Regions from separate parts of the Homo sapiens genome. Here region 2 is linked to region 1. A link means that fine-mapping ties the variant in region 1 to the expression of a gene that starts in the linked region. Tissue or cell type: whole blood. Region 1 holds a variant in brackets; the other region holds the start of a gene. All regions are shown on one strand. Distances are from middle to middle. Region 1 overlaps BHLHE40-AS1 (BHLHE40 antisense RNA 1). Region 2 holds the start of BHLHE40 (basic helix-loop-helix family member e40).

What was found.
Region 2: BHLHE40 starts here. The variant in region 1 is fine-mapped to the expression of BHLHE40 in whole blood (TOPMed, PIP above 0.99).

What each region holds. Positions count from the first base shown.
Region 1 is chr3:4,929,528-4,941,297 of GRCh38, forward strand. All of the region lies in intron 1 of BHLHE40-AS1 (BHLHE40 antisense RNA 1), which reads right to left. Among named protein-coding and RNA genes, the nearest start is that of BHLHE40, 44 kb to the right of the region's middle. The variant T/C (reference allele first, on the strand shown) is at 6,530.
Region 2 is chr3:4,971,962-4,983,568 of GRCh38, forward strand. BHLHE40 (basic helix-loop-helix family member e40) reads left to right here and starts at 7,476. Exons shown (of 5, transcript NM_003670.3): 1 at 7,476-7,837; 2 at 8,001-8,070; 3 at 8,340-8,447; 4 at 9,431-9,554; 5 at 10,875-11,607. The coding sequence starts at 7,758. It overlaps BHLHE40-AS1 (BHLHE40 antisense RNA 1), which reads right to left and starts at 8,000. Exons shown (of 3, transcript NR_125916.1): 1 at 7,834-8,000. RefSeq lists enhancers at 4,089-4,268, 5,698-5,887, 6,008-6,057, 6,188-6,307, 7,608-7,757 and 3 more and silencers at 6,418-7,187, 7,398-7,457.

The sequences.
Region 1 (11,770 bases):
TCTTAATATAGAGATATTGAGAGCCTTTCAAAATATAATTGTCACAGATAAATCCAGGCCTATCAGTAATTTTAGAATAAATTTCCCCTTCCATTCTGCCCAGCTGAAATGTTTCAACATTGGTCCAGCCAAACATGTCTTATCTTCCAGAGAACAGTAAATATTACACTTTATCCAGGTGCTGATCTGGATATTGACTATGTGACATATTACAGTTTTATTAAGATATATTTTACATAGGATAACATTCACCCATTTTTAGTGCACAATATAATTATTTTTAGTAACTTCACTGAGCCATACAACTATCATCATAAATCAGTTTAAAAACTGTTTCATCCCTGCAATAAGATCCCTCATACCCATTTATAGGTGATCTTTGTTCCCAGCCCTAATAACCCAGACAACTGCTAATCTACTTTCTGTCTTTATAAATCTGCTTTTTCTGGATATCTCATAGAAATGGGATCATACAATACATGCTTGCCTGTGTCTGACTTCTTTTACTTGTCATACTATTTTTTTTTTTTTGACAGGATTTCACTCTGTCACTCAGGCTAGAGTGCAGTGGTGCAATCACAGCTCACTGCAGCCTTGACCTCCTAGGCTCAAGCTATCCTCCTGCCTCAGCCTCCTGGGACTACAGGCATGTGCCACAACACCTGGCTAATTTCTTATTTTTTGTAGAGATGGGATCTTGCCATGTTGCCCAGGCTTGTCTCAAATTCCTGGGCTCAAGTGATCCTCCTGCCTCAACCTCCCAAAGTGCTGGGATTATAGGCATGAGCCACCTTGCCCAGCCAGCATAATATTATTGAGGTTCATCCACGATGTAGCATGTGTAAGTAATTTGTTCTTTTTTGGTGCTGAAAAGAATTCCATTCATGGATAAGCCGCATTATGTCTATCTATTCTTCAGTTGATGGACATTAGGTTGTTTTCAGTTTGGGCCTATTATGAATAAAGCATCTGTGAACATTCATGTGCAAGTCCTTATGTGGACACATTTTCATTTGTCATGGGTAGATACCTAGGAATAGCATTGCTGGTCATATGTTTTATGTTTAACTTTTGGAAAACTGCAAAACTCTTTCCCAAAGTGGAATCGTTGATTTTTGAGATGAGGAAGATCATTTCCTGGTAACTGGTTTAAAATCCAACCACTGCCTCCTACAGGTCCCCAACCAGAAGCATTAGCCTGCACTTCAGTGGCCTCCAGTCTAGATTACAGGTATGAAGATAAGGTTTAAGGATGGAACTACTAGAGTTGCCATTGTAGCTGTCCCTGGGCAGAAAGATATGTGCCTAGGGAGAATTTCTATGAAAAATTATAACATATTCATATTTTTAAGGAATAGAAAAATAAGGCAACCTTCTGTAATTGAGAAAACAAATAAAATGTTTGTTATCTCTGATGTTTTACTGGCAATTTGCATATCATGCCCCTAATGAGAACAGCTTCCATTTAAAAACATCAATGTCATATTTTCCCTATCACTTCTAGTGGTTTCTAATGCTGGTGTTTATCTGAAACATCATATTTAATTGGAACCATATCTTCCCCCTCCCCCAAGAACCACTAATCAATAATTTGGATTTCTGTCTTCAGAATAATAATCGTATGAGAGTGTGTGGTTATTTTTCTAAATGAAAGATGAAGTACTTCATCTTCTAAGGGTCTAAAGACAGCAGATATCAAATGCCCAGGTGTACTCAAAAGCATGATTACTGGAAAATTCTTCCATAGGTGAAATCTGCCATGATGAAATCTGCAGCTGAAGTAACCAGGAAAGAGAGACAAATGGGAGAAGGGTAACTTCAAGTATATAGCAGCAAGCAGAATAAAGAGACCATGCTAAGAGAAATTAGGAATTGGCCGTTGGTTTGTTCTTTTTAGGATGTTCTAAATCCTAAAGTCGTCCTGAGACGAAGTTAAAAATGGAGTGTGGCCATTGGAAAATCATCATTTTTTGCAATCGACAAAGTAAATATTGATACAGACAAGAATTGTTCATGGATGCTAAATCTAGGAGGGTGAGTTTGATGAAGAGCTGGGCATTTGCATGATCTTTAAATGTCTACCCACAGATTGTTAAGTGTAAAAGAAAAATAGTAAGTATTCAGTGGAAAAATCAGACAAAGCTTTGACCAGATTATCAAAATTAACAGCACCAGCATGGGGCAGATGTGTGGTATTATGGCTAGGTGTGGAGACCCTGAATCTAATAGCAAGGAAACATCAGACTAAACCAAAATGAGAAATACTCTAGTTTAAAAAGAGAAGGCCTGTATTTTTCAAAAATGTCACTGTCATAAAAGACAAAGGAAAGCTGAAAAATTGTTTCAGATTAAAGGAGTCTAAAGAGATGTAACAACTAAATACAATGCCAGATCCTAGACTAGATCCTGTATTGAAGAGGAAAACATGCTAAAAAAAAGAAAATTATTGAGTCAATTGACAAAACTGGAGCATGGGTGGTACACTAGATGAAAATATTATATTAACACCTCAGCCAGGTGTGGTGGCTCATGCCTGTAGTCCCAGTGCTTTAGGAGGCTGAGGTCAGAGGATCTCTTGAGGCCAGGAGTTTGAGATCAGCTTGGGGAACACAGTGAGACCTTATCTCTACCACAAACAAAAACAAACACACCTCAATACTTCAAATACTTCAGAAAAAAGTATGTGTGGCTGGAGGGAACGGAGGTGGAGACAGGGAGAGAGAGAAAAGGAGCAAATTATAAAGGAGAGAAAAATGTTAACAGCAGGTTTGAGAGCCTGGTCTTGGTGAGAAAAAAAAAAAAAAGAAAAAGAAAAAAAGAAAAGAAATGTTAACAACAGGTAAATCTGGGTAAAGGGAATAAGGATGCTCTTTGTACTGTTTTTGCAACCTTTCTTCAAGCTTCCAAATAAAAAGTTTGAAAACTCGTATTTTAGGCTGGGCATGGTGGGTCTCGCCTGTAATCACAGCACTTTGGGAGGCCAAGGTAGGAGGATCTCTTCAGCCCAGGAGTTCGAGACCAGCCTGGGCAACATGGCAAAACCCCGTCTCTATAAAAAAATACAAAAATCAGCCAGGGATGATAGTGATGTGTGGCTGTAGTCCCAGCTGCTCGGGGTGGCGGGGGTGCTGAGGTGGGAGGATCACTTGAGCCTGGAAGTCGAGGCTGCAGTGAGCCGAGGTAATGTCTAGATGACAGAGTGAGACTCTGTCTCTAAAACATAAATAAATAAATAAATAAATAAATACATACATACATACATACATACATGTATTTTATTGAACAGACAAAATTAACTTATAATAAGAAGAACCAGAAGAGTAGTTGCATTTTGGGGGGGAAATTGGTTGGGGATTTGAGGGAAACTTCTAGATGCAGGAAATTGCTTATATTTTGATCCAGTTGGCAACTATACAGGTGTATAATGTAAATGTAAAATGTAAAAATTCAGAGAAGCTTTACATTTAAGATTTTTGGACTTTACTATATGTAAACCATACGTTAATACAAAAGTAAAGAAAAAATGTATTTTATGCTTCTTAAGTGGGTGAAGAAAACATGAAAAAACTAGTATTTTTATTTATTTTTAACTAGAGGAAAGTGCATCTGATTGGACATACTCACTCTCATTTTTTCTGTTGTTATTTGTTTAAACCTCCACCCACTCCTGAAATTCCAGAAGTGACTTTAGTCCTTTTTAAGTTTAAATTTTTAACAAAAAAAGAAAAGAAAACCAACTGCAACTGCACACAAAAAAAGATTTCTTTAGCCAATAAGCACAACATGTACCTCTGAGTTCTATCATTTAATAGTGGATTTCAAATATAAGTAGATAGGACAGGGAAATCGCCTATGGGCCAATTGAAAAGTTAACAGCAAGGCAACTTAATTCCCACACACTGTCTCCTCTTAAAAGGATGATGTCGGCCGGGCGCGGTGACTCATGCCTGTAATCCCAGCACTTTGGGAGGCCGAGGCGGGCAGATCATGAAGTCAAGAGATCGAGACTGACCTGGCCGACATGGTGAAACCCTGTCTCTACTAAAAATACAAAAATTAACTGGGCGTGGTGGCACGCGGCTGTAGTCCCAGCTACTTGGGAGGCTGAGGCAGGATAATCGCTTGAACCCAGGAGGCAGAGGTTGCAGTGAGCTGAGATTGTGCCACTGCACTCCAGGCTGGCAACAAATTGAGACTCCGTATCAAAAAAAGAAAAAGAAAAAATGGTGTATTTTCCACGGAGCCATTGCTATAATTTTAAAATTCAACCATCACAAGCAGCCAAAATGCCAAGATACCAAGAACACTTCTGTTATTTCCGAGACAATCAGGAATTTCTTTCTTCCTTCTTTCCTTCCTTCTGAAGAGACCTCCCTATAATGCTGGATGTGGTAAGGTGCACGGCTATAAGTCTAGATTTCCAGCCTCCATTGCAGGTGAGGGCAGCCAATGAGCTTCTAGGAGAGTTCTTTAAAGAATATAACTCAGTGCCAGATGCAGTGGCACGTGATTCAGGAGGCTGAGGCAGGAGGATTGCTTGAGACCAGCAGTTTGAGTCCAGCCTGGCAGTATAGCAAGACCCCATCTCTAAAAACAAATTACACGAGCATACCACTCGGTTGTGGCACATTTTGTCTTTGGCCACCATTTTGTATTACCCTCTTTCATCTTCCTGCTGCCTGGAGGTCGTATGTGGTTGTGGGAGCTGTTGTAGTTATCATGTGACCATGAGATGACCTTGAATGGGAATCCCTTGTGCTAAAGATGATGGAGGAGAAAGCCAGAAGGGATTCTGGGTCCCTGACAACCTGACAAGTATGGAGCCATCATACTGGTCCTGGACCATCTACCTCTATGTGAGAGAAAAACAAACTGATACCTTGTTTACACAATTATCATTTTGAGTATAAATCCTATCAGACACAACTCCATTCAACAACTATTTTTCATATTGTTGTTTCTTCCCACAAAAAGCATTGAAATAATTAATCCTTCATTAAAAAGCAGAAGACAGTGTCCATCAACAGATGAATAAACAAAATGTAGTGTGTGTATACAATGAAATATTATTTATCCTTAAAAAGTAATGAAATTCTGACACATACTACAGCATGAGTGAACTTTGAAAACATGATGCTAAGTGAAATAAGCCAGGTAAAATTACAGATATTATATGATCCACTTATTGGAGGTACCCAGAATATGCAAATCAGAGACAGAAAGTAGAATTGTGATTAGATGGTGTGGGAGGGGAGGCAGAGAATGGGGAGTTAGTGTTTAAGAGGGACAGAATTTCCATTGGAAGATGAAACAAGTACTTGAGATGGACAGTGGTGACAGTTGCACAACGAGAATGTACAAAATACTGCTGAATTGTACACTTAAAAATGGTTAAAATGGTAAATTTTATGTTATGTGTATTTTCCCACAATTAAAACAAATAAAAATTAAAAATTAAAAAATAAAATAAATAAAAAACCGGAGAGCTGGGCATTGTGGCTCATGCCTATAATCTCAGCACTTTGGAAGGCCGAGGATGGTGGATCGCCTGAGGTCAGGAGTTTGAGACCAGGCTGGCCAACATGGTGAAACTCCGTCTCTACTAAATATACAAAAATTAGCCAGGCCTGGTGGTGCATACCTGTAATCCCAGCAGCTTGGGAGGCTGACGCAGGAGAATCTCCTGAAGCTGGGAGGCGGAGGTTGCAGTGAGTGGAGATCGCACCACTGCACTCCAGCCTAGGTGACAATGCAAGACTCCATCTCAAAACAAAAAAAAAAAAACAAAAAGGAGAGCATCAGGTCAAATCATTCCTTTTCATAAGCCCTTCATTGTCCTCTCATCACATTCAGAATGAAATCCAAATTCCTTCCCAAGGCTTACAGAGTCTTGCGTGATCTGGCTTCTGCCCCTCCCTCCAGCCTGTCTGGTGCCTCTCATTTTTGGTCACTTCACTGAAGCCACTTTGGCCTCCTTTCTGTTTCTGGAACATGAAGCCTTTCCTGCCTCTGGGCCTTTGCTCCTGCTGGTCCCTCTGCTGGGAGGCATTTCTCAGTTCTCATGGCTGACTCAACCTCACCTTTGTGGTTTCAGGTCTCAACTCACATTCATCTTCTCAGAAAGACCTTCTTTCAAGTAGCCTCTCCTTTCTCTCTCTCTCTCTCTCTCTCCATTTGGTTTATTTCCTTCCTAGCACTTTTTGCAAGCAGTAATTTATTTTTTAACTTATTTTTTGTCTACTTTTCCCTTTAGAATTAAGCTCCACAGTGCAGGGTCCTTGTCTTTGTTTATGCTCCACCCCAAGTGCAAGCATACTGCCTGGCACAGAGCAATCCTTTGATAAATATTTGTTGAATAAATGATAAATATATAAAAAGAGCTTTCAAGTGTCAATGAATCAGCCTTAATTGCATTTTTAACTATGTGAAGCTTGTATTTAAACATTCATTTTGAAGTTAATTTTCTAATAAAAAATAATAGCTCTCCTTGGCCTAGTTAGTTTCACATTAATGATTTTTATAAGACTTG[T/C]TCCCACATACAAGTATGATGTGGTAAAATATAATTTAGGAAAACTTATTTCCTTTGTATCTATTATTTAAAAAAAAAACTCTTGTAAGGGTTAGAAATAAAAGATTAAGATATTTATGTGTAAACTCCTTTACACACGAATTATGAAAAAACAAAGATCGTGGAAAAAGGAGTCACACAACCTTCAGACTAAATGTTTTCCAGAGTGAAAGTATTGCCTTTGCTACAAGTCAATAGGATGAATGCAAAATTCTAAAATTATTATGGCAAGTGGACAAAACAATTCCTAAGAGAGATGGAAGAAAATGGAATTCACATATTAAAATTCTATAACATATACAGAATTTTATTTGCACGACGGTTACGTGATAAGTGCACTATTTGTAACAAAACTGACAATTTCAGAATTATGTGTTCCAGTGACAGTTCCTGTATTGGGTAAAACTGTGAAATGAAAGGAATTCCCTCAGTAACTCCCATCTTCCATCCTCAGGGTGTTCAGCATCCCACCAATATGGTACACCCTGCCCTAAACTGACTTCTAAGGCAGGATTCCATCTTCCTATGCCAATTAAAACCTGCTGATCCTATATCCAATCCTTAAAGCCACCATCATAGGCAGAAAAGCTGATAAACTAAACCATAATGATGTGTTAGTGGAAACCAAAATGTCTGTGGACCAGCACAGATTCTCCACTAACATATGTTTTAACAGTGACCTTTTAAAGATAATGCCTTCATAGAAAGGTGTAGCTGCATGGCTTTAGTAGTGACATAGAGGGAGCATGGGAGGAGAAAAAGGCTTTAGAGGAAAGCGTAGAAACTGAAGTGCCTGTGGAACATGGAAAAAAAAGGGAAGACAAACAGGTATTTGGAATATGTGGGTCTGAAACTCAGGAGAGACATCTGGGCTAGAACATAGACCGGGGAGTATCAGCATGTGAATGGTAATAGGAACCATGGAAGCATGAGTCTGTACGACTGTCCAGAGATGGTCACTCCTCTTTGTTTCCACTGCTGCCCTTGGTCACTCCCAGAGCTTCTAGCAGGTCTCTCTATCGCCCTTCCTGCCACCTCTGTTCTCTTCTCAGTTCAGCAGCTACAGTGATTCTTTTGATGATCGGATGACTTCATGCTTCTCAAAATTCCCCTGTAACCCTTCATCTCACTCAGAAAACACAAATGCCTGACCATAATTTACAAGGTCCTACAGGACCCCGGGAGCCTGAGATTTCTTCAACTTCATCTCCTGATGTTCACTCGTTTCCACCACAGGGGACAACCTTCTTGTCTTCAAACCTTTCAGACATGCTCCTTGCTTTCAGGTCTCTGAAATACTACTCTCTCTGCCAGAAATGCTGACATAGGTACATGTCAGGTCTTTTGCCTTTTTTAAGGCTTTGCTCAAATATCATCATCTCAAAAAGGCCTATTCTGAGTACCCTTCTTTAAATTGCCCTCCCCTTCCCCTGCGTACTCCCTACTTCCCTTCCCCTTCCCTGTTGATTTTCTTTTCTAAAGCACTTATCAACTTCTAGCTTTTGCAAAAATTTATTTTATTATGTGTACATTTAAAAATTTATCCAAGGGCAGGAACGACTTTTGTTTGCCTGTTTTGTTTATTAAGGTATCCAATGTACCTAGAAAAATGCCTGGCATAAAGTACATTATGTTATAGTTTATATAATTTCTATGTAAAAATACAAATTATAATTTAAAATAATTTGTATTTCTACATAGAAATGATATAAAGTATAATCTATATGTAGATTATTCACTTATGAATTAAAAAATATATATCTTTTGAATATTGAATGAAATCTAAGACAGAATTCTGAGAAACTCTAACATTAAGTGTTGGGCAGAATTTCCAAAAGAAAATTGATAAGGAGCTTCCTGTAAAACCAAAGAAAGCTTGGAGATAATGCTGTAACTGAATAAAAGGGAAAAATATCTCAGGAACCAAGAAGTTCAACAGTGTCAAATGTTGGTCAAGAGTCAAATGAGGTGAAGACTGAAAAACCTCCATTGAATGTAACAACAAGGAGAAGGTTGCCTTGGTAAGAGAAGTTTCAATGACACATGGATAACACAACTTAGAAAATGTTAAATAAAGCTTACAAAGAGTTAAAACAAAAGAAAAGAGCATAAAAATTTAAACTATGAAATCATCAAGCTTATACAATTCAGATATTGGATTGTATAATTTGTCACTATTGTGGCTATATAACAGAGCATCCCAAAACTTAATGGTTTAAGACAGCAACCATTGTACTGTGGCTCATGAGTCTGTGGGTGGATTGGGCTCAGGTTGGCATTTCTTCATCACATGAAGCCAGCTGGTGCTGCAGCCATCTAGGGCAGGGCTCAGCAAACTTTCCCATAGAGGACCAAATAACAGATACATTAGGCCTTGTGGACCATATGGTCAACTGGCATGATGATTCAGCCATACCATTGTTGTGACAAAGTAGTCATAGATAATATATAAATCAAAGGGCGTAGCTGTGTTCCAATAAAACTTGATTTACAGAAATCAGATGGCGGACCAGATTTCACTGAAAGGCACTGTTTGACCACCCATGATTTAAGGGCTCAGTCTGGTGTGATACATTCAAGATGGCTCACTCTTGGAGTGCCTTGGCACTGCTCTGTGTGGTCTTCTGACACCCACCCTCCATGTGACTTGGGCTTCTTAGAGCATGGTGGCTGGTTCCAAGAGTGAAAAGCAGAAGTTGACAGGCTTAGGCCTGGAGCTTGCATTACTTCCATCACAGTCCATTGGTTAAAATGAGCCCCAGGGCCAGTCCAGATTCAAGGGAGCGGGTTATGAAAGGGTGTAAGTACCAGGAGGCATGGTTCACCAAATGTTACAGACCATCACACAATTCTAAGAGGTTTGCTTGTCAAAACTGTGTTTCATTCCACATTCTGTCTGGAGACCCTCACCTAAGGGAAATGTTTGGTGACTTGTGAAGCCATCCTTTGATCCTTTCAAGAATTATCTTCTTGACATCACTTTAAAGAATCCATGATTTGGCCAGGCATGGTGGCTCATGCCTGTAATCCCAGCAGTTTGGGAGGCCGAGGCAGGCAGATAACCTGGGGTCAGGAGTTTGAGACCAGTCTGGCCAAAATGGCGAAAGCCCATCTCTACTAAAAATACAAAAAATTAGCCGGGCATGGTGGCGGGCACCTGTAATCCCAGCTACTTGGGAGGCTGAGGCAGGAGAATTGCTTGAACCCGGGAGGTGGAGGTTGCAGTGAGCTGAAATCACGCCATTGCACTCCAGCCTGGGCAACAAGAGCAAAACTCCAACTCCGTCTAAAAAAAAAAAAAAAAAAAAAAAAAAAGAATCTATGATTCATTACTTAAAGACAACAGTTCCTTCCTCCCATTAGCTTGAGAAAACTCTAGGTCTTCTGACACCCACCCTTAAAAATGCTGTTTCCAATCCACTGCACTTAAGCTAAAAGGCACTACAACCCATTAAACTTAGATTACAAATATGATAGAAAATGGTTTTTAGTAGTAAGATTAAAGCAATCATACTTAACTACTTAAAGATCTATCAAAGTGCTGTTATTTTACAAAAGTAAACTATAATCTATATTAGAATATTCACTTATGAATTTCAAAAATATTCATTAAACATTCATAAATTGTTAGGTCTTATGCTAGGTTTTGGTAAATACAGCCATCATTTTGCTCTTAATGTAGAACTGTAGGCCATTAGTTGACCTTTAGTATACAGTAAAACAAAGACTGCATGAGATAAAATTTTCTCAGTGAAGTGGGAAAAAAAGGAAGCATTTAGGTTCTCATAAAATTATTGAACCACAAGAAAATTGAAGGCATATATATTTTTAGGTTGGTATTTTAGTGAACCATATGGTCTGATATAACCAGATCATTTTAATCAAACATTATCATTCTATTGATAAGAAGGTAATACTAGCTGGCTGGGCACAGTAGCTCATGCCTGTAATCTCAGCACTTTGGGAGGCCAAGGCAGGTGGATTACCTGAGGCCAGGAGTTTGAGACCAGCCTGGCAAACATAGCAAAACCCCATCTCTACTAAAAATACAAAAAAAATTAGTCAGGCTTGGTGGCATGCACTTGTAATCCCAGCTACTCGGGAGGCTGAGGCAGGAGAACTGCTTGAACCCAGGAGGTGGAGGCTGCAGTGAGCTGAGATTGTGCCATTGTACTCCAGCCTGGGCAACAAGAGCAAAACTCTGTCTCAAAAGAAAAAAAAAAAAGAAGAAGAAGAAGGAGGTAATACTAGCCAGGTGCGGTGGTGCACCTACAGTCGCAGCTACTCGGGAGCCTGAGGTGGGAGGTCGCTTCAGTCCAGGAGTTCAGAGCTGCAGTGTGCTGTGATAGTACCTGTGAATAGGCTCTGCCCTCCAGCCCGGGCAACATAACAAGACTCTGTCTCTTAAAAAAATACATATGTAATAAATGAAAACCATTTTTTAAAAGGTAATACTAGAACATTATGAGAAGAACTGATTTTACTCTTTAAAAAGTGTGACCCAAAAAATGCTGAACACGCTGTCAGAGATATGTGGTTGTAAGCCAGAGGATATGAGATGCCACCAGGTGAATATAGCACATCTTCCCGTGTCAATTGCACTTAAATGTTCTAGGAGGAAAACATTTTAACTGTTAAGTGCTTTAAAACATAATTCTAGCTGGGCATAGTGGTATGTGCTTATAGTCCCAGCTTCTTGGGAAGCTAAGGCTGGAGGATCACTTGAGCCCAGGAGTTTGAGGCCAGTCTGGGCAACATAGCAAGACCCCTGTCTCTAAAAATAAAAATAAAAATAAGGCATAATTCTTATCACAATACAATAAAGCTACAAAATATTTTAAAGGCCTTTACAGGTGAAAATTTAAATCTTGTCTATTAAACAACAATGAGGATTGGTCAGATATGAGCCTGTAAAAAAAAAAAAAAAACACTTAGGTGAAAGTGGGCATAAAAACTGCAATGGTGGCATTTCTAAAAAAGAATAGTAATGAGGCCAGGTGCAGTGACTCATGCCTGGAATCCCAGCACTTTGGAAGGCCAAGGCAGGTGGATTGTTTGAGGCCAGGAGTTCGAGATTTGCCTGGGCAACATTGCGAAACCCTGTCTCTACTGAAAATACAAAAATCAGCCGGGCATGGTGGCACGTACCTATAGTCCCAGCAACTCAGGGGGCTGAGGCAAGAGAATCACCTGAGCCTTGGC
Region 2 (11,607 bases), 42 kb after region 1:
GAAACCAGAAAAAGTAGAGCAAATTAAATCCAAAATAAGTAAAAAAAAAAAAAAAAGAAAAAAAGAGAAAATTAATGAAATATAAGATGAACAAACAATAGAGAAAATCAATAATATCAAAATTTCGATCTTTGTAAAGTGTAATAAAATTGATAGGCCCCTTGGCAAGATAATCAAGAAAAATACATACATTAACAAAAACTTTTAAAAGGAGTGAGAAGGGGTTTATTACTACTGACTATAAACTTTGAAACTGATAAAACTTTATACCAATATATTGGCAAATTTAAGTGAAATAGACAAATTTCTTAAAAAACACAAATGAACAAAACTAATGAAAGAAGAAATTAAAAACTAAATAGCCTAATATCTGTTAATGGAATTATACTCATAGTAAAAATCTTTCCCCCAAAGAAAACTTCAGGCTCAGGTGGCTTCTCCATTTAAGGAAGAAATATTACCAATCCTACACAAGCTCCTTCAGAAAAGAAGTAATATTTCTCAACTTGTTTTATAAGACCAGCATTATCCTGATAAAGTATTAAGGCGAAAAAGAAATTTAAAAGATCAGAAAAGAAGTAAAGCTGTCATTGTTCACAAACAACATGTTTGCGTATGTGAAGAACCCTACCAAAAATACTACTCAAACTAATAAATGAATTTAGCAAGGTTATAGATACAAAAATTGACTGCATTTCTATATACACTCAATAAACAATTGGGAAATGTTTTAAAATTTACAGGCATATTTAAAAAAATCAAATAGCTAGGAACAGATCTAACAAAAGATGTGTAAGACCTCTCCATAGAAAACTACAAATATTGCTGAAAGAAATGAAGATGACATCATAAAAAAAAATGTAAAGCTATACCATATTCATAGATAAGAAGGCATAATATTGTTTAAATGTTCATTTTTCCTAAGCTGATCTATAGGTATGATGCAATTCCCATAGAAATTCTAGCAAGCTTCTTTGAAGAAAGAAAAAAGCTGAATCTAAAATTTATATGGTAATGCAAAGAACCCAAAATAGTCAAAACAATCTTTTTTTTTTAGATGATCTCACTCAGGCTGGAGTGCAGTGGTGTGATCTTGGCTGACTGCAGCCTCCGCCTCCTGGGTTCAAGCGATTCTCCTGCCTCAGCCTCCTGAGTAGCTGGGATTACAGGTGCCCACCACCATGACCGACTAATTTTTGTATTTTTAGCAGAGACGGGGTTTTACTATGTTGGCCAGGCTGGTCTCACACTCCTCACCTCATGTGATCTGCCCACCTCAGTCTCCCAAAGAGCTGGCATTACAGGCGTGCCAAAACAATCTTTAAAAAGAACGAAGTTAGAAGATTTACACCATCCAATTTTAAGATTTCTGTAAAGCTCCAGTAATCAAGATAGTGTGGTATTGGTGAAACCTAGACAAACAGACCAACGAAACAAAACAGAAAGTATATAAATAGAACCACACGGATATGGTTGATTGATTTTCAACAAAGTGGTGAAGTAAATCCGATTGGGAAGGGAAAGTCTTGTTAAGTATTGCTGGAACATAAAACTGAATCTTGACTCTTCTTTCACTCCATAAACAAAAAATTACTTTGAGACAGATCACAGACCTAAGTACAAAAATCTTATCTATAAAGTTTCTAGAGAAAAACATAGTATCTTTCTGACTTGAGTCATGCAAAATTTTTTGATAAAGACCCACGCACAAGCTGTAAAAGAAAATACTGATAGATTGGACTCTACCAAAACTAAAAATTCTACTCATAAAGGACATCATTAATAAAATCGTGTTTCTGACAAAGCACTTGTAATTAGAATATATAAGGAACTCCTAAAAGTCAACAATATAATGGCAAAGTTGCAGGATACGAGGTCAATATAGAAAATTGGATTGTATTTCCATATACAACAATTATAAAGGTAAGTAATCCAATTTAAAAACTAAGCAAAAGATGTGGACAAATACTTCAGAAAATAAGATATACCAATGGCCAATAAGCATATGAAAGAGTGCTCAACTTCATTATCAGGGTAATGCAAATTAAAATGACAATAAAATATTATTTCATACCCATTAGAATGGCTAAAATTTAAAAATCTGTCTACCCTAAACGTTAGTAAGGTTGTGGAGCAGCTGGAATTCTCATACATTGTTGGTGGTATTGTAAAATGGTAACACCTCTTTGGAGATCTGTTTGGCAATTTATAATAAAGTTCACATATATTTAATCTGTGACCCAAGAATTCCACTCCTAATATTTATCCAACATAAATGAGAACATACGTTCACAAAAGAACTTGAACATGAATGTTGATAGCAGCTTCATTCATAACAGCCCCAAACTGGAAACAACCTGAATATCCATTAACAGGGAACTAGATAAACTGTGCTATATGTGTATGATGAAATACACTCAGCAATAAAAAAGAACAAAATTCTAATACATGTGCTAATATGGTAGGATCTCAAAACTATATTGACAGAAACTTTGAAGAGTACATTCATTTATACGAATCTCAATAATGGACAAAGTTAATCTATAGTGATAGAAATCAGAAAGTAATTGTGGGGGTTGGGGGATTGATTGGAAAATGATATATAAAGAAACTTTCTGGGGTGATAAAAGTGTTCTGTATCTTGTGTGGGGCAGTGGCTACATAGGTGTACATTTACCAAAAATAATACACCAAACATTTAAGATCTGCATTTTATGTTTACCTCTCAATTAAAGAATTAAATGCCGTTATTTTTTAAAAGAGCAGAAAATGAGAAGGTTGATTATAAATAGGGAACAAAGGTAGGAATTAACAGATGTTTTCCTGAATGGAGACCTCTATACCATTGAGTCCAACCAGAATCAGCAATTTTATTTAACATTTTTATAAGTTATTTGGAAGATCTTCAAGTGTGCAGATGCCACTGATCTCTTTCTGGTGGGGCCAAGCCAAAAATACAACACTATCTCTAGAGTAAGGCAAGTTTTTATTTTTTATTTATTTTGAGACGGAGTCTCACCCTGTCGCCCAGGCTGGAGTACAGTGGCATGATCTCGGCTCAATGCAACCTCTGCCTCCTTGGTTCAAGCGATTCTCCTGCCTCAGCCTTCCAAGTAGCTGGGACTACAGGCGTGCACCACCATGCCCAGCTAATTTTTTAATTTTCTTAGTAGAGATGGGGTTTTACCATATTTGCTAGGCTGGTCTTGAACTCCTGACCTCATGATCCACCTGATTTGGCCTCCCAAAGTGCTAGGATTACAGGCGTGAGCCACTGTGCCCCACAGGCAAGTTTTTAAATTTCAGGTCATGATCCATTGGTGAGTGGTGAGATCAACTTAGTAAGTCATGACCTGAATACTTTTAATAAAACAGATGAGACTAAACTGGAAAGTATCAGAATGTATATAATAACAGTGAAATATTGTTCTGTGAAATTTTTGTCTGAAATGCATTGGATTGACTTTTTTTTTTTTTTTTTTTTTCCTGAGACGGAGTTTTGCTCTTGTTGCCCAAGGTGGAGTGCAATGGTGTGATCTCGGCTCACTCACTACAACCTCTGCCTCTTGGGTTCAAGCAGTTCTCCTATCTCAGCCTCCTAAGTAGCTGGGATAACAGGTGCCCGTCACTATGTCCGGCTGATTTTTGGTATTTTTAGTAAAGCTGGGGTTTTACCATGTTGGCCAGACTGGTCTCGAACTCCTGACCTCAGACGATCCGCCCGCCTTGGCCTCCCAAAGTGCTGGGATTACAGGCATGAGCCACCACACTCGGCCTGATTGACTTCTTTCTAAGTGGCTCAATTTTTTCTTTTTTCTTTTTTAAGAGAGCAATGGTTACTCAGGAGTATAGGAGAGAGGGTAGCGGTCACTTATTGCTATAGCCCAACCAAGCTTTGGCTGCCCTATGCTTAAATATACTTAAGATGTGTGTAAAGACATACGTGTGTGTATTGAGACATGATGTAAAATGTATTTCTTACCGTGAGCTGAGATAAAAATTTTTGAGGCTTCATAAGCAGGTAAAAAGTGATATCTGAGCAAGCAAGTTGTGGGGATGTATAGGGGAGCTTGGGGCTCTAAATTCTTGCACAGGAAGGGCCCGGGAGTTACTATAGATAGTAACAGTATAGACTCATTCAGCACACAGTGTAAGGCCACCAAGATGCTGAGTCCCAATAGGAAAGAAGAGAAAGATCCCATCTTTCTCTTGTACGAAATTATGTTCTCTCCCCACTTAGAAGAGACAAAACAGCAGGGACGGCTACAAAATGGCAGGATTACCCAGTGCAGCTGCTCAGTGCCACATTGCACAACTCCAGAGGGTGCTCTCACACAGACTGCAATGTGAATAGCTCCCCCTGGAGTTGAGCGGTGCACAACCCAAACAACCCTACCAGGCAACCGTAAGTATAGTGATTAAGAGCACAAGCTTTGGAGTCCAACAAACCTGGGGGCCTGTCTCAGACTGAATCCCAGACTATATAACCTGGGGCAGGTTATTTAGCCTCCTTGAGCCTCAATTTTCCAAACAGAATATGTTATACATCCCTAGGGCCTATTTCAGTGTCTGGCATTGAATAACAATAAACACGTGTCAAATGCATCGAGCTAATACTAGTACCTGCCTAAAAGGTGGTGGTGAGGAGCAAAGAAATTGACATACGAAAGGTTTTTAATATCTACAAAAGATGACAGACTGAAATAGTAACATTCTCCAGGATGGAAAGATCTATGCCACGTAGGAATTGTTTGTTCAAATTATTATTTTTTAAAAGCCATAAGCTATGGAGAGAATAACAGAGTTTTGTTTTGTTTTTTAATCCTGATACGGTGGAAGTCTGGTAGGATGGGAACCGTTCTTGAAGCTTGAGAATACATTCGGAACAAATAAAAAGTAGGAAATGCATACATTTTGTTATTTACAGTTGTAGGGCAGGTAAGGGCAAAACGTATTGATAAACTCAAAGAATTTTAAGAATGATATTGTCATGAGCCATGAGCCATGGAAGCTGCAAGGTTTGGGCTCCCTCCTGCCATCGGGTGGGGGGTGTCGGCGGAAGGGGGTACGTGTCCTGTCCTCTCCCAGTGCTTATTTCCTGCTGGAACCGTGGTTTTGACGCAGCCGTGACAGCCCTTCATCCTTATTAAAATCACACAATGAAGCAGGTCGCCCAAGATTGAAAGCGCGTTTCCAGGGCGGACCCCGGTCCCCGCCTTTGGCCAGCAAAAGTACATTCTGGCAGGGAGGGATCTCTGAGCCCCGAAGTGAGGTCATGCCAGTTAGCAGTTAGAAAAGGAGGCATTTCTCACACTTGCTAAAGAGTTTGACGCTTGTGAAATATAAACAGGAAGCGGGAGCTCTCCAAGGCGACCTGAAGGAAATACACTGCCAGTTTGGTCAACTTGTGAATGCCAGTTCTCTAGGTCGTCAAGGGCACTGCCAGTTAAGACTGATCCCCTAACTGCACCCGAGGCTACTACTCTTCGCCCAGTCTCGGCAGTGACCCCATTTTTTTTTCAATCCTTCCCACAGCCAGGTCACTCAGCAGTGGGGTGACTGACCCGAAGCGCAGTGGGAAGGGCTTACAGTCATCTCTCAACTCCCCGAACTTGCAGGGCAGGGGAGCGCAGAGGTCAGTGAAATCCCCAGCCAGGCCTTATTTTAGTCATGAGTTTCCACTGGCTCCCTCCTCTGACTGTATCAGCGCTGCTCACACCGCGGGATTGGAGTTTCAGCTGTTTTCCCTGCTCCCGGCTGAGTGAGAAGGTCACAGAGCCCGGACCTTTCCGGGGGAGGTGGGTGGGGCCCTCCGGCAGCCTAAGTGAGATTGCAGAGATCTGGGGCCGCTGGAGGAGGTCCTTCCGCCCCGGGCTTGGGGCTTTGGGTTAGCTTCTCCCCCGCTTCTCTACCTAGGCATCTCGGTTACAATGAAATTAAAAACAAAACACAAAGCAACACAAGTTCTCATTGTTTTTCCCCTCTGTCAGCCAGTGGCCTCGATACAATTTTCCCAGGGCTGCCTTTCCTTTATTGCTCAATTTAACCTCTTCCTAGAGGTTCTGCAAGTTCAAGGGCAGGATCCGTGTCGGATTCATCAACTAGTGCAGCGCCTAGTGCAGAGCAGGGGGCTCAAGAAATACGTGTCGACCGCATGATTGCTAAGATTTCCCTGTAACAGGCGGTTTTTTTTTCTTGTCTCTCTCATCCCTCCTGCCCTGGGTGCAGACCGCGAACAGCGCCGCCGAACTTCCCAACAGGCAGGGAGAGGGCCGATCCGGGCTGGCACGCCACGTCCCCGGGGTCTCAGTCCCTGGGTCAACGCAGAGAGGCTCGCGGTCCGCGGTGCTACGACCTGAGCCCGGCCACGTGAAGCGTCACGCCCTGCGCTGCTGCAGGGCAGGCGCCGCCGCCGCGGTTGTGTAACGCTGCAGCCGGAGGGGAGGCGACCGGGGCGCCTCTGCTCCGGAGGGGGCAGAGGAGGGAGGGAGCGCCGGGCACAGCGCCCGGTATCTTTCTGCGCTTGACTGGCCGGGAGGAAGGGGGTGACACTGGGGCACCCAGGGGGCTGCGCAACCGGGTGCCCGCCCGCCCGCAGGTTGTGCCCAGGAGCGGAGCTCCTGGGAGCGAGGGGCCCTCGGCTCACACCCTCCACGGTCAGGTGCGCGCGGCGTGCTCGGCGGCAGCCTCAGCTGCCCCTGCGCTTGGCCGTCGGCCCGCTTCCCATGGGGTGACATCCGCCCCGCCCCTCGGTCCCTCCCCAAGGCGGGCAATTCCTGGACGCGAGGGTGAGCAGTGGGGGCAGGGAAGCCAGGACGGAAAGAAACCCCAGCCTCTGGGGAAGGCTGGGGGGCCGGGCGACTCCCTCCGCAGCGCGCCGGTTCCTCCAAGCGGGCCGGGCGGGGGAGGAGGAAGAGGGCTGGGCTGGAGCTAGCAAGGGGATATTCCTCTCCCGGCTTGAGTCAGACGCGGGCGGATCCGTCCTCCCCCGTTCCCTCCCAGGAGACGGGAACTTACTTCATTTCCCTGGGGCAGGTTCGCCCACGTTACCAACTTCTCCCCCTCCCCCAGCACCCCCGTCCCTTCCAGCTTCCGCGCCCCCCACCCAACTGGGCAGGACCCAGGTCGTGCTGCCACCCCCTCTTCGGGGAAAGGCGGCCGCAGCCGCAGACACCTGGGGGCCGGGGCTGGGGGTGGGGGCTCCCTAGCAGCCGCCGGAGCGTTGTCCAACACGTGAGACTCATGTGATGAAGCCGGGGGAGGGCGGGCAGGTCGCTCCTTCCCTCCCCGGCAGTGGCCAGACGTGCCTGGAGTCACAGGGTAGAACACGTAGCTCCAACCCACCCACTCGCTCCCATTTAACCCAGCCCGCAGCCTCTCCATTACTCCTCGGCTTGCCCCCCCACCCCCCCACTCCGCCCTAACCGCCCCCCCCTCACCCGCTCCCTCCCGCCTCCCCGCCCGCCCCACTTCTCATTCACTTGGCTCGCACGGCGCAGACAGACCGCGCAGGGAGCACACACCGCCAGTCTGTGCGCTGAGTCGGAGCCAGAGGCCGCGGGGACACCGGGCCATGCACGCCCCCAACTGAAGCTGCATCTCAAAGCCGAAGATTCCAGCAGCCCAGGGGATTTCAAAGAGCTCAGACTCAGAGGAACATCTGCGGAGAGACCCCCGAAGCCCTCTCCAGGGCAGTCCTCATCCAGACGCTCCGCTAGTGCAGACAGGAGCGCGCAGTGGCCCCGGCTCGCCGCGCCATGGAGCGGATCCCCAGCGCGCAACCACCCCCCGCCTGCCTGCCCAAAGCACCGGGACTGGAGCACGGAGACCTACCAGGGTAAGTTGGCACTCCTTGGCCCTTCAAGCCTCAACTGCAGCCCCATGTTATGCGCCACTCTCAACTTGGAGCAGCTCCGGGCGCACCGGGAGGTTCTTGCCCGGCAGAACGCCTGCAGCCGTGCGCAAGCAGTCACGACCCTTCCTGGTCTCTCTTCCTGCAGGATGTACCCTGCCCACATGTACCAAGTGTACAAGTCAAGACGGGGAATAAAGCGGAGCGAGGACAGCAAGGTAAGCAAGTGCACCCCTAGGGACCCTGCGCTCAGCCCCTCGCGCGCGCTGAGTTTCCAAGAAAAGTTTTCTCGCTTTGAGGTTGGCGAGGGGATGCAGGGTGTGGGCTCGGTGCCTCTTCTGAGTGACTTGGAAAAGAAAGGGCAGACGATGGTTCTGGGTGCTACTCTGCTACTCTGCTCCTCTGCCGGACTGTTGCTGCGGGGCTGGGAGGATAGGCTTCTCATCTCCTTCCCCAAGCGCCCACCGCCTCCCCGTGCGTCTTGCAGGAGACCTACAAATTGCCGCACCGGCTCATCGAGAAAAAGAGACGTGACCGGATTAACGAGTGCATCGCCCAGCTGAAGGATCTCCTACCCGAACATCTCAAACTTACAGTAAGTGAGAAGCTGGCCCCTTTCCAACCCAGTCCTTTGCCCAGAGGGCGGGCGGGTCACTCGCCGCCTGCAGGTTCCGCGGGGAACTGCAGACCAGACTGGCGGATCAGAGCTGGCGGGTGGCTCTGCGGTGGGGTCCTCCTCCACAGTCCTGGCGTTTTCTGGCTGACTCATGCAAATGAGGCGAGAACCACTTGGACCTCTCCAAGTTGGCTCCAACACCAACTGGCCTTCCTTTTCAGGAGTTTAACTTCTGGTGATTTTCAGGATTCCCTAGTTTTTCTCACTTAAAGGAACACGCCAAGAAACACACACATTTTATTTACCCCTTCCCCTCTACCACTCCCCCCACCTTTTTTGTTGTTGTTGTCAAATAAGGGGACTTGCTTTGGTGTGTGATTTTTACGGCCTGTCCTTTCTTGACAGTAGCCCTCGGCTACTTCGCAGCCTTTGGTTGGGGAAATGGAAAAAAAAAAAATAGTATTTCGGGAGGAACAAAAAAGCCTGGATGAGCTGGAAGTTCTGAAAGGGTGTAAGGAAAGAAGTAGGGAAAGCCTCTTGGCTGCCAGACGTAATAGAGGTCCCTCTCTGAGTTGACACCACTGCAGGAAAATGTTATCTCTGGATTCCCCTGAGTTAAGGTCGGCAGAGGCTGCTGGAGAAATTTATCTGTCAAAGGATTTTCCTGAGGTAGTTGCAGCTTCCAAAATGCCTCCAAAGACAGGTGGCACCCGTTTTTTTAAATTATTTAATTATATATATATATTATATATATATACACACACACACACACACACACACACACACACATATATGAGTGTATCTGTCTATCTTTTTAAAAGCATGACCTACAGACTTAAAACAGCCAACCAGGAAACACTATTCCACTTTTTTTTTTCTTTTCTCATTTCTCATTGCTAATAAATGTCCCAAAGGTGGGACTTCTCTGACCTCACCGCTGACTAAGGCTCTTTTCCTTCCAGACTTTGGGTCACTTGGAAAAAGCAGTGGTTCTTGAACTTACCTTGAAGCATGTGAAAGCACTAACAAACCTAATTGATCAGCAGCAGCAGAAAATCATTGCCCTGCAGAGTGGTTTACAAGCTGGTGAGTGCTGATTCTGGCTATGCTCTCTTTAAGAGTTTGAGTGCAAATAGAGAGCCCGTGGGCTCAACATCTGATGTAATAAACATTACTGCAACAAATTGCTTATGCACGTTCATTGGGGGAGATGCAGTTTTATCTTTCCTAAAAGGTCAGACTTTTCATTTGAAATGCATTGTGCCACCTGGCATGAATACGTATTAGTGAAATGATAAGATATTCCTGTGGCATTTTAGCTTGAGAGTCTCTGGGTTCTGGGAGATTTCCCTACTCCCTTTTAAAATGCCAAGGCACCTATAATTTGCATTGTGGGTGTTTTACAGTTGGTCTTCTTAGCCCTCTTTCATTGGAGAAGAAATCATGGGTATGCCCCAGCGTTTTCCTGTTTCTTTGCTTCCTTGTCACTTGGTGTGTGGTGTGATCCTGGCAGGATACAGCAGGAGTTTTTCCTGCATTTCATGTGGTTCCCTGAATAGCCACTAGGTATCTTGGTGAATTGCACAATCTAGCGAAACCACTGAAGTTTCATCATTCGTTTCTACTGACTTCCAGATAATCGGAGTCAACCTTCTAACCTTCTAGTCTCACTTCTTCCAAATAATACTGTACAGACTGGGGAGAATTATTCTACCCACTCCCTCATTTCATGCTTGTCTGCCTTCCTCTCGAAGGCTCGTATGATGAAAATTGCAAAAACCCAGCTAGTGCTTCTGCCTGTTTCCTCATTCAAAATAGGAAGATGGTCATACCTAATGTCTTGAGGATCATGGATAGAATATGTGGAGAAGACATAGAAATAGCCTAATTAAAGGTCACAGCATGACTGCAACTTTTACAAATCATTGAAAATAAGTTTACTTTAGGTGATTGTTGTTTCTTCATTCTTTTCCTCATTTTATAACTATCCAGCCTCTGCCCATTTTGCCACGGTGCAATGTTGTATGCATTGACTCTTAGGTTTATAAATACATCAGAATGTTCTTTGCTGCCTCGCTTACATGGAAAACTCACAAACCACCTATACAATCCAAAAGAGGGGAAACAGCTCATCTCATATTAATTATGGTCCATTTCCATGATAGGATATTATGCAACCATTAAAAATCATATTTTATCTGAGTGTTAGTATATGGATTATTTTAATTATTTATACTTTTCAGTGTAATTCTTCTCTGAGCATACTACTTTTGGAGTTAGGAACACAAATCAGTAAATGCATTTTTTTTTTTAACAAAAACTAAAGCACCTGGTTTTTTGGAGTATAGTTTCCAGGTGCGCCACAGGCCTTCTGAAACGTTTTCCTTCGGATTTTTCTTTCCCCAGGTGAGCTGTCAGGGAGAAATGTCGAAACAGGTCAAGAGATGTTCTGCTCAGGTTTCCAGACATGTGCCCGGGAGGTGCTTCAGTATCTGGCCAAGCACGAGAACACTCGGGACCTGAAGTCTTCGCAGCTTGTCACCCACCTCCACCGGGTGGTCTCGGAGCTGCTGCAGGGTGGTACCTCCAGGAAGCCATCAGACCCAGCTCCCAAAGTGATGGACTTCAAGGAAAAACCCAGCTCTCCGGCCAAAGGTTCGGAAGGTCCTGGGAAAAACTGCGTGCCAGTCATCCAGCGGACTTTCGCTCACTCGAGTGGGGAGCAGAGCGGCAGCGACACGGACACAGACAGTGGCTATGGAGGAGAATCGGAGAAGGGCGACTTGCGCAGTGAGCAGCCGTGCTTCAAAAGTGACCACGGACGCAGGTTCACGATGGGAGAAAGGATCGGCGCAATTAAGCAAGAGTCCGAAGAACCCCCCACAAAAAAGAACCGGATGCAGCTTTCGGATGATGAAGGCCATTTCACTAGCAGTGACCTGATCAGCTCCCCGTTCCTGGGCCCACACCCACACCAGCCTCCTTTCTGCCTGCCCTTCTACCTGATCCCACCTTCAGCGACTGCCTACCTGCCCATGCTGGAGAAGTGCTGGTATCCCACCTCAGTGCCAGTGCTATACCCAGGCCTCAACGCCTCTGCCGCAGCCCTCTCTAGCTTCATGAACCCAGACAAGATCTC